2 linked regions of the Homo sapiens genome follow. The protein of the gene in region 1 interacts with the protein of each later gene in a pairwise test. Each region holds a gene or a part of one and is shown on either strand. Other genes may lie near its edges.

Region 1 (3,319 bases):
ATTTCATTTCCTTTGGGTGTATATCTGGAAAAGGGATTGCTGGCTCATATGGTAGTTCTCTTTTTAATTTCTTTAGGAACCTCCATGACGTTTTCTATAATGGCTGCACCAAACTGTGTTCCCACCAACTGTGTACAAGGGTTCCGTCTTCTCCACACTCTCACCAATGCTTGTTATTTCTTGTCTTTTTGATATAGCCATCTGATATGGTTTGGTTGTGTCTCCACCCAAATTTCACCTTGAATTGTAATAATCTCCACATGCAAAGGGCAGGGCCAGGTGGAGACAATTGCTTTATGGGGGCAGTTTTCCCCATACCTTTTTTTTTTTTTTTACTTTATTAAAATACTGAGTTTTATTTCACGTGTATACTTTTGTCTCCCCACCATTTCCATGTCTGACCACTGCTACTACTATGTCCTATCATAGCATCCCATACATACTTAAAACCAAGCAAAGGGTGGAGTTCCATCTTTAAAAACTAAACAGGCATTTTGGACAACACATTCTTGGCAATAGAACCTGGACAACATTTATCAAACATGGTAGGGAAAGTTCTCACTCTGCACTATAAAAAGGACAGCCAGATATCAACTGTTACAGAAATGAAATAAGATGGAAAATTTTTAACAAATTGTTTAAACTATTTTCTTAAAGAGACTTCCTCCACTGCCAGAGATCTTGAATAGCCTCTTGGTCAGTCATCCAGAAGAAATTCTTCACATAATTGATGAACTTGGTTTCCACTTTGGGAAGAGAACCACGTTTTTCTATACTTGCTTGCATTTTTGCTTTAATGTCTTCTACAGAACTAGATCCTTTTGGTGTTTTAGGAGATTTTTCCTGTTTTTTGAAGGATTCTTGTCCTTTTGATCTTGGTGTTGATGATGGTTTTGAGTCTTTTCCATTCTGATTTGACTTTTGTGCATTTTTGGCTGGAGTATCTCGTATAGATTTCTTCACTGGCGCTTTTTCTTCAGCTTCCTCGTCATCATCATCATCATCATCTTCATCATCATCATCATCAGCAGCAGCAGCAAGTTTTACTTTTTTCTGCCCACCTCCAGGGGCAGACTGCTTTCCAGATATACTTAAGAGTTTCACATCCTCCTCTTCTTCATCTTCTGACTCTGCACCTTCCTTCACAGCTACTAAGTGCTGTCCACTAATATGCACTGGCCCTGAACCACACTTCAACCTTAAGTCCACTGGTGGTGTTATTTCAAAGCCCCCAAGAGAAACCGTTGGCTGTACAGACATTTTCAAAGTTGCCAGTGTTACTTTAATTGGACTGCCTTCGTCATTCATGGCCTCTGCTTCAACAATGTGCAGTTCATCCTTTGCACCAGCCCCTGAGCTGACCGTTCTTAAAGATAACTGGTCTCATTTTCATCATTATCCACCTTAAAGTGATCATCTTTGTCGGCCTTTAGTTCACAACTGAAAAGATAGTTCTGGGGCCTCAGGGGGCTCATGTCCATGTCCATCGAATCTTCCATCGGGTGGCGACACACACTTAGGTAGGAGACAAGGCAGACGAAGATAAATGAATGCTGCTCCAGAGAACAGCCGCGCAGGACGGAATCACACCAGGGAGCCCCATACTGTTCTTGTCTCAAGATATCTGATGGTTGTATAAATAGGAGTTCCTGTGCACAAGTCCCCCTGCCTGCCACCACATAAGACATGACTTTGCTTCCCATTTGCCTTCTGTCATGATTGCAAGACCTCCCCAGCCATGTGGAACTATGAGTCAATTAAATCTCTTTTATTTATAAATTACTCAGTCTCGGGTATGTCATTAGCAGTGGGAGAACAGGTAATATTAGCACCATGAAAACAGGTAATATTTTACTATGATTTTGATTTGTATTTTCCCAGTTATTAGTGATATTGAGCATATTTTCATATACCTGTTGGTATAAGAAATAAATTCTTTGCTCATTTTAAAATGGAGTTATCAGTTCCAATATGCTTCTAAAGATTAGTTGGGGCTTTGCTGTAACATCTAGACATGTATATCTGATTTGGAACAAATCCACTTCCTCTCTGTGTAGTGCCTGGCACTACTGGCACCTTTGTCATTCAAATAGGCACACTCTCCTGCTCCCAGGATAGGAAACCTGCAAGAGAAGAAGCAGAATCAGTTGGCCACTGAACATTTCTTCAACAGCAGAGAGAATGAAGATGAGAAAATGAGAAAACTAACATTAATTCAGCCTCTAAAAATAATGCTGTTTTTCCTTGTGTAGTGGTGACTAATTAGTCAGTGGGCTTTGCTTAGCAGGAGATGTTATAAATCAACTATAGGAATACTGCAAAGTCCTGAATCAAACCTATTTCATGTCTGTAAGCATAATATTCTTTCAAGTACATCCAAAGCCTTAGCTGGCTGATGGGAGAAGTCTGACACGTTTTCTTTACACAGTTTCCCAATATTTTGCTTCCTTAAATAACTGAAGACTCAGCAGCTATTTCTAAAAACCATGCTTGATTTTATTCCTCCTACTTCCCTGGTGGTTTTAGTACTGAAACTGCAGTGCTATTTAGCTGAGTTTAGATGGCTTGGCACAGATATTTTAGGTCAGCATTTGGATTATAAATTTTTCCTCTTTGCTCATTGGAATCACTATCATCTATGATATAATTTGCTAATTGTTGAAACTTGTTAGACCTTAATCATATAATATTTTACATTTCTTTAAGTGATGAGCAGTTTCCAAAAACTGGTTAGTTAATAATATATTTGATCCTTAAAATATTTTGAGAGGCCAGGCATGGTGGCTCACACCTGTAATTCCAACATTTTGGGAGGCCGAGGTGGGAGGATTGCTTGAGCTCAGGAGTTCAAGATCAGCCCAGGCAACATAGTGAGACCCCATCGCTGAAAAAAAAAAAAAAAAAAAAAAAAAAGCCAAGCAAGGTGGCACACACCTGTAGTCCCAGCTACTCAGGAGGCTGAGATGGGAGGCTCACTTGAGCCAGGGAAGTCAAGGCTGCAGTGAGCCACGATGGTACTACTGCACTCCAGCCTGGGTAACAGAGTAAGACCCTGTCTCTCAAAAATACAAACAAACAAAAAACCATTTTAAGAATTAGGTAGAGAAAATTTACTACTTCCGTATTGTAAAATAAGAAATAAAAGTTAATTCTAGATATTTATGAAGCAGTCACAATGTGCAAGGCAGTGTAGATACAACAATGTATAAATGTACATGTTCTCTGATTTCTAAAACTTACCATCCCATCCAAGGTCAAAAGCTAATGAGAAAAAACTCATTTCAAACCTGCCAATGTCCAGTCTGGGGCTCTTTTTATT
Region 2 (3,649 bases), on another chromosome or scaffold:
GCCCACTGGGGCTCCCCCATGCCCTCCCCACAGGCCCAGCAGGACTCCGGCAGCGGGGGGTCAGGACAGACACACGCGGGGATCTTGAGGTCCCGCCGGGGGGACGTCCCTCCCACCACCTTAACCCCTGAACTTCGCCCCTGAGAAGACGGAGGAGGAGGAGGAGGAGGCCAGGTTGTATCCCCTGGTCTCCCAACGAGTAGGAAATGGAGTGGGCGGCAAAAGCCCCGACAACAGGGGGCTGGCACCCCCAAAAGGAAAGGAGCCCTGGGGAAGGGGAGCGCTAGGCCTGACTCCTGAAATAGCCTCACGCCAGGAGGAGAGGGCTTAGCTCACAGTGACTCAGGGCACAGCAGGCGTGGACATCAGCCCGGGACAGACTCTCCTGGCAAAACCCCCACTCATTCTTATTTCCCCTGCCCCGCCCCCACCCTTAGACCCCCACTGGGCACCAGCCCAGGGTTGGGGGGGGCCAAGGCTGGTGTATGAAGCCAGCGGGGCTCCAGTTTGCTGGACTGGCGGGAAGGTGGTGATTGATTAATAAAAAATAATTGGGGCCGCCTGTAATCCCAGCACTTTGGGAGGTCGAGGCAGGCGGATCACGAGGTCAGGAGTTCGAGACCAACCTGACCAACATGGTGAAACCCTGTCTCTACTAAAAATACAAAAATTAGACAGGCGTGGTGATGCGCGCCTGTAATCCCAGCAATTCGGGAAGCTGAGGCATGAGAATCGCTTGAACCCCAGAGATGGAAGGTTGCAGTGAGCCAAGATCACGCCACTGCACTCCAGGCGACAGAGCAAGACTCTATCTCAAAAAACAAAGATAAAAAAGAGAGAATTGCATTTTCCAGCCCAGAATAGGGTCCCAAGGGGGTTCCTTGTGTGTTCTTTCCCAGGTTGAGGATGGGGGAGTGTGTCTGCCATGCGGTAGGAATGGAGGCTTCTCTGGGGTTCACAGAGCAAAGAGAGGTCCACCTGGGGGTCCTCCATGAGGGCGGGCTGCTCTCAGAGCAGAGAGACCCCCCCTGGGAAAGGACCCTCTTCTTTCTCCCTGAAGGCAGGTGTCCAGGCCACGGAGGACAGGAGGAGGGTGGAGAGGAGAGAGGGCTTCCCCTCCCAGGACCTGCCTGCCTGCCTGCCGGGCCCCCACACCCACTGCCCTTCAGTCATTCTGCCCCGTCCCCCCGTCACAGAAACACTCTGGTCACTCAGCCACCTGCAGCCCACCCCCCACACCCACCAGCTCCAGACCACACCCACACCTCCCACCACCCCTACCTCCAAGGCGCCCCTCAGGCCTGGGCCTCACCCCTCCAGAGCCTCTTGCAGAAAACAAACCCTTGGGTGACCCCTTCTGGAGGTGGATGTCTGGGCCAAGAGCCTCCTTGGGTCACACTCAGCAGGCAACCCAGGCTGGCTGTCCCTCCCAGGGACCCCCCTGCCTCCACCCCAAGCTGGCTAGAGAAGGAGCCTGGGCTCAGGAGGGGAGAGGTGGGAAGGCAGACCCAGGCTTCTGGGCACTTGGCCCAGCTGGACCTTATGCAGATGGACAGCCTCCTTCTGAAGCCCAGAGCCTAGGCAGGAGCTGAGGCCACACCCCCGACTCCCAGCTGCAGGAGCTGGTTCAGGAATTAAGAATAGGGCACAGAATGACCTTGGTATCACTTCACCTCCCCCAGCCCAGCCAGCAAAGCCCCAGGCCCGGTCCAGGTCATCCTCGGCCACCCCCAACTGCAGCTGCCCTCCACAGGAGCCAGGGACAGGACAGGGTCGCGGCTCCATGAGGCTTGCTCCAACCTGGCCAGGTGGGAATCCTGCCCCACCTCTTGCTGACATGGGGCTGGGGTGGGGTGGAACCCTGTCCGCCCTCTACCTCAGCTCTGCTCCATCCAGCACACAGGGCCCCCCCGGACACCACTGCAGGTCTGAGCACACCTGACCCCACCTCCGCAAAAGTTAGGGAAGCCTCTGCTGCCGGAGGCGCGGGAAAGCCAGTGTCTCCCGCGAACACTGATGGCCCACGGCCCTGCTCAGTGTCCAGGATTCCCTTCCGCAGCGCCTCCCGGCGACTGGGGGACCTTGGCGGCAGCCGGCTCAAACCCTCGGAAGTGAGTCCCTGGGCCCGACAGGTCGCCTGCCTGGAGGGGCGGGGCCGAGGCAAGGATAACGGCTGCACCGAGGAGGGAGCGGGCGCAGAGGAGGCACCGGGGCCCCGCGCAAAACTGGCCACGACCCGGACTCGAACCCCGACCCTAGGAGAGGCGCAGTGCCCGGGTGGCCCTGTCCGGCGCGCACGTGTGCAACGTGTCCCGTCTCATCAAGTGAGGAGAGGAGAGGAGAGGAGAGGGGACCAGGGCGTGGGGCAGCCGCTCTGAGTGCAGGGGGCGGACCCCGCGATGGTGCAAACCTTCCCCACCCGCCCAGTCCAGGCTCCTAGCCGGAGCAGCGGTCTTGGGTCCTCCCGGGACCATCCCCACAACCGCACCCAACGCCTGGCCGGGGCAGCGACTCCGACTCCCCAGACCCCGCGACCCGCCGCGGGAGGGACCCCGGGTCTTTCCCGGGCCCCCACCCCGGCCCCCGGACTCACCCAGAAGAGCAGGTTGAAGGCGAACATGAGGTACTTGACGGCCTGGAGGCAGGCGCGCGCCATGCCGCAGCGCTTCAGTTCTAGGAGGAAGATGAAGGAGAGGTCCAGGTAGAAAACCACGTACTTGTTGCCCTTGGGCGACGTGTAGCGCGCCTGGGCCGCCTTGGGGCCGGGGTTCGCGTGCAGGCCGAAGAAGGAGCCCCCGGCGTCCCCGCCGCCCGCGCGCCCGTATAGGCTGCTGTAGCGCCGGAAGGGGCCGCCGCGCGCGAAGTCCGGCTCCTTGCCCTCCGGAGAGGGGCTGCGCCGGTACGTGGACTCGTCCGTGCTGGAGCGGCGCATCGCGCCCGGGTGTGCCGGGGCCGCCGCTCAGCGCCCCGCACCCGCCGCCCCGGAACGCCCCATCCCGCCGGCCGGCGCCTGCTCCGGCCCCGCTCCTGCTCCCGCTCTGGCCCCCGCGGTGGCAGCGGGTCGCGCGGATCCGCTCGGACCCCGGCGGCGGAACCCAAACATCTGCCCGGCCCGCGCGCTGCGGCCCCCGCGCCCCCGACCCCGCGCGCCCCGCCCCGCGCCCTCCCGGCCAATCCCCGGCGGCTCCGCCCCCGCGCGGACCCCTCCCCTCCTCGCCGCACCGCCCGGCAAACCCCAGCGCTCCGCCTGGGCGGACCAATCGCAGCCCCCGGCAACGCACCAGCCGCGACCCCGGCCCCTTCGCCCGCGCCGGCGCCCCAGCCCCCCCACCTTCGCGCGCGGGAGGAAGATGCTCGCGAAGGGCGCCTGAGGGGACTGGAGGCCGGGGCCGGGGCCTGGGGATGAAACCTGGGCAGCTCTTAGCCCGCGACCGACACCCCCAGCCCTTCCCCCCACGGTACCTCGCCCGGACTCTGGCCCCGGGCCGGGCTTGGAGACCTCCAACCACGAGAACGATACTCAAAGCACTACGCAAATGGAGGGTGACCCCGTTGCTGTCTGGTGGCAACTTGAAGCGGCTCCGCCCCGGGCGCCCTTGGGGAAGCCCTGAGTGCCGGCGGCGGGTGGGGGGCTGGGTCAGCCTGCACT

Evidence for each region.
Region 2: the proteins of CLEC2D (region 1) and TSPAN4 interact in binary tests that used the Homo sapiens proteins (3 or more experiments, as listed by UniProt).

The regions. Positions count from the first base shown.
Region 1 is NC_000012.12:9,693,564-9,696,882, reverse strand, and holds part of CLEC2D (C-type lectin domain family 2 member D), read right to left. Parts: intron 2,124-3,319; coding exon 2,009-2,123; 3' UTR 1-2,008. UniProt on the Homo sapiens protein: Receptor for KLRB1 that protects target cells against natural killer cell-mediated lysis. Inhibits osteoclast formation. Inhibits bone resorption. Modulates the release of interferon-gamma. Binds high molecular weight sulfated glycosaminoglycans.
Region 2 is NC_000011.10:849,312-852,960, reverse strand, and holds part of TSPAN4 (tetraspanin-4), read right to left. Parts: intron 3,106-3,649; exon of another isoform or gene 2,933-3,105; coding exon of another isoform or gene 2,657-2,932; coding exon 2,594-2,656; intron 1-2,593. UniProt on the Homo sapiens protein: Structural component of specialized membrane microdomains known as tetraspanin-enriched microdomains (TERMs), which act as platforms for receptor clustering and signaling.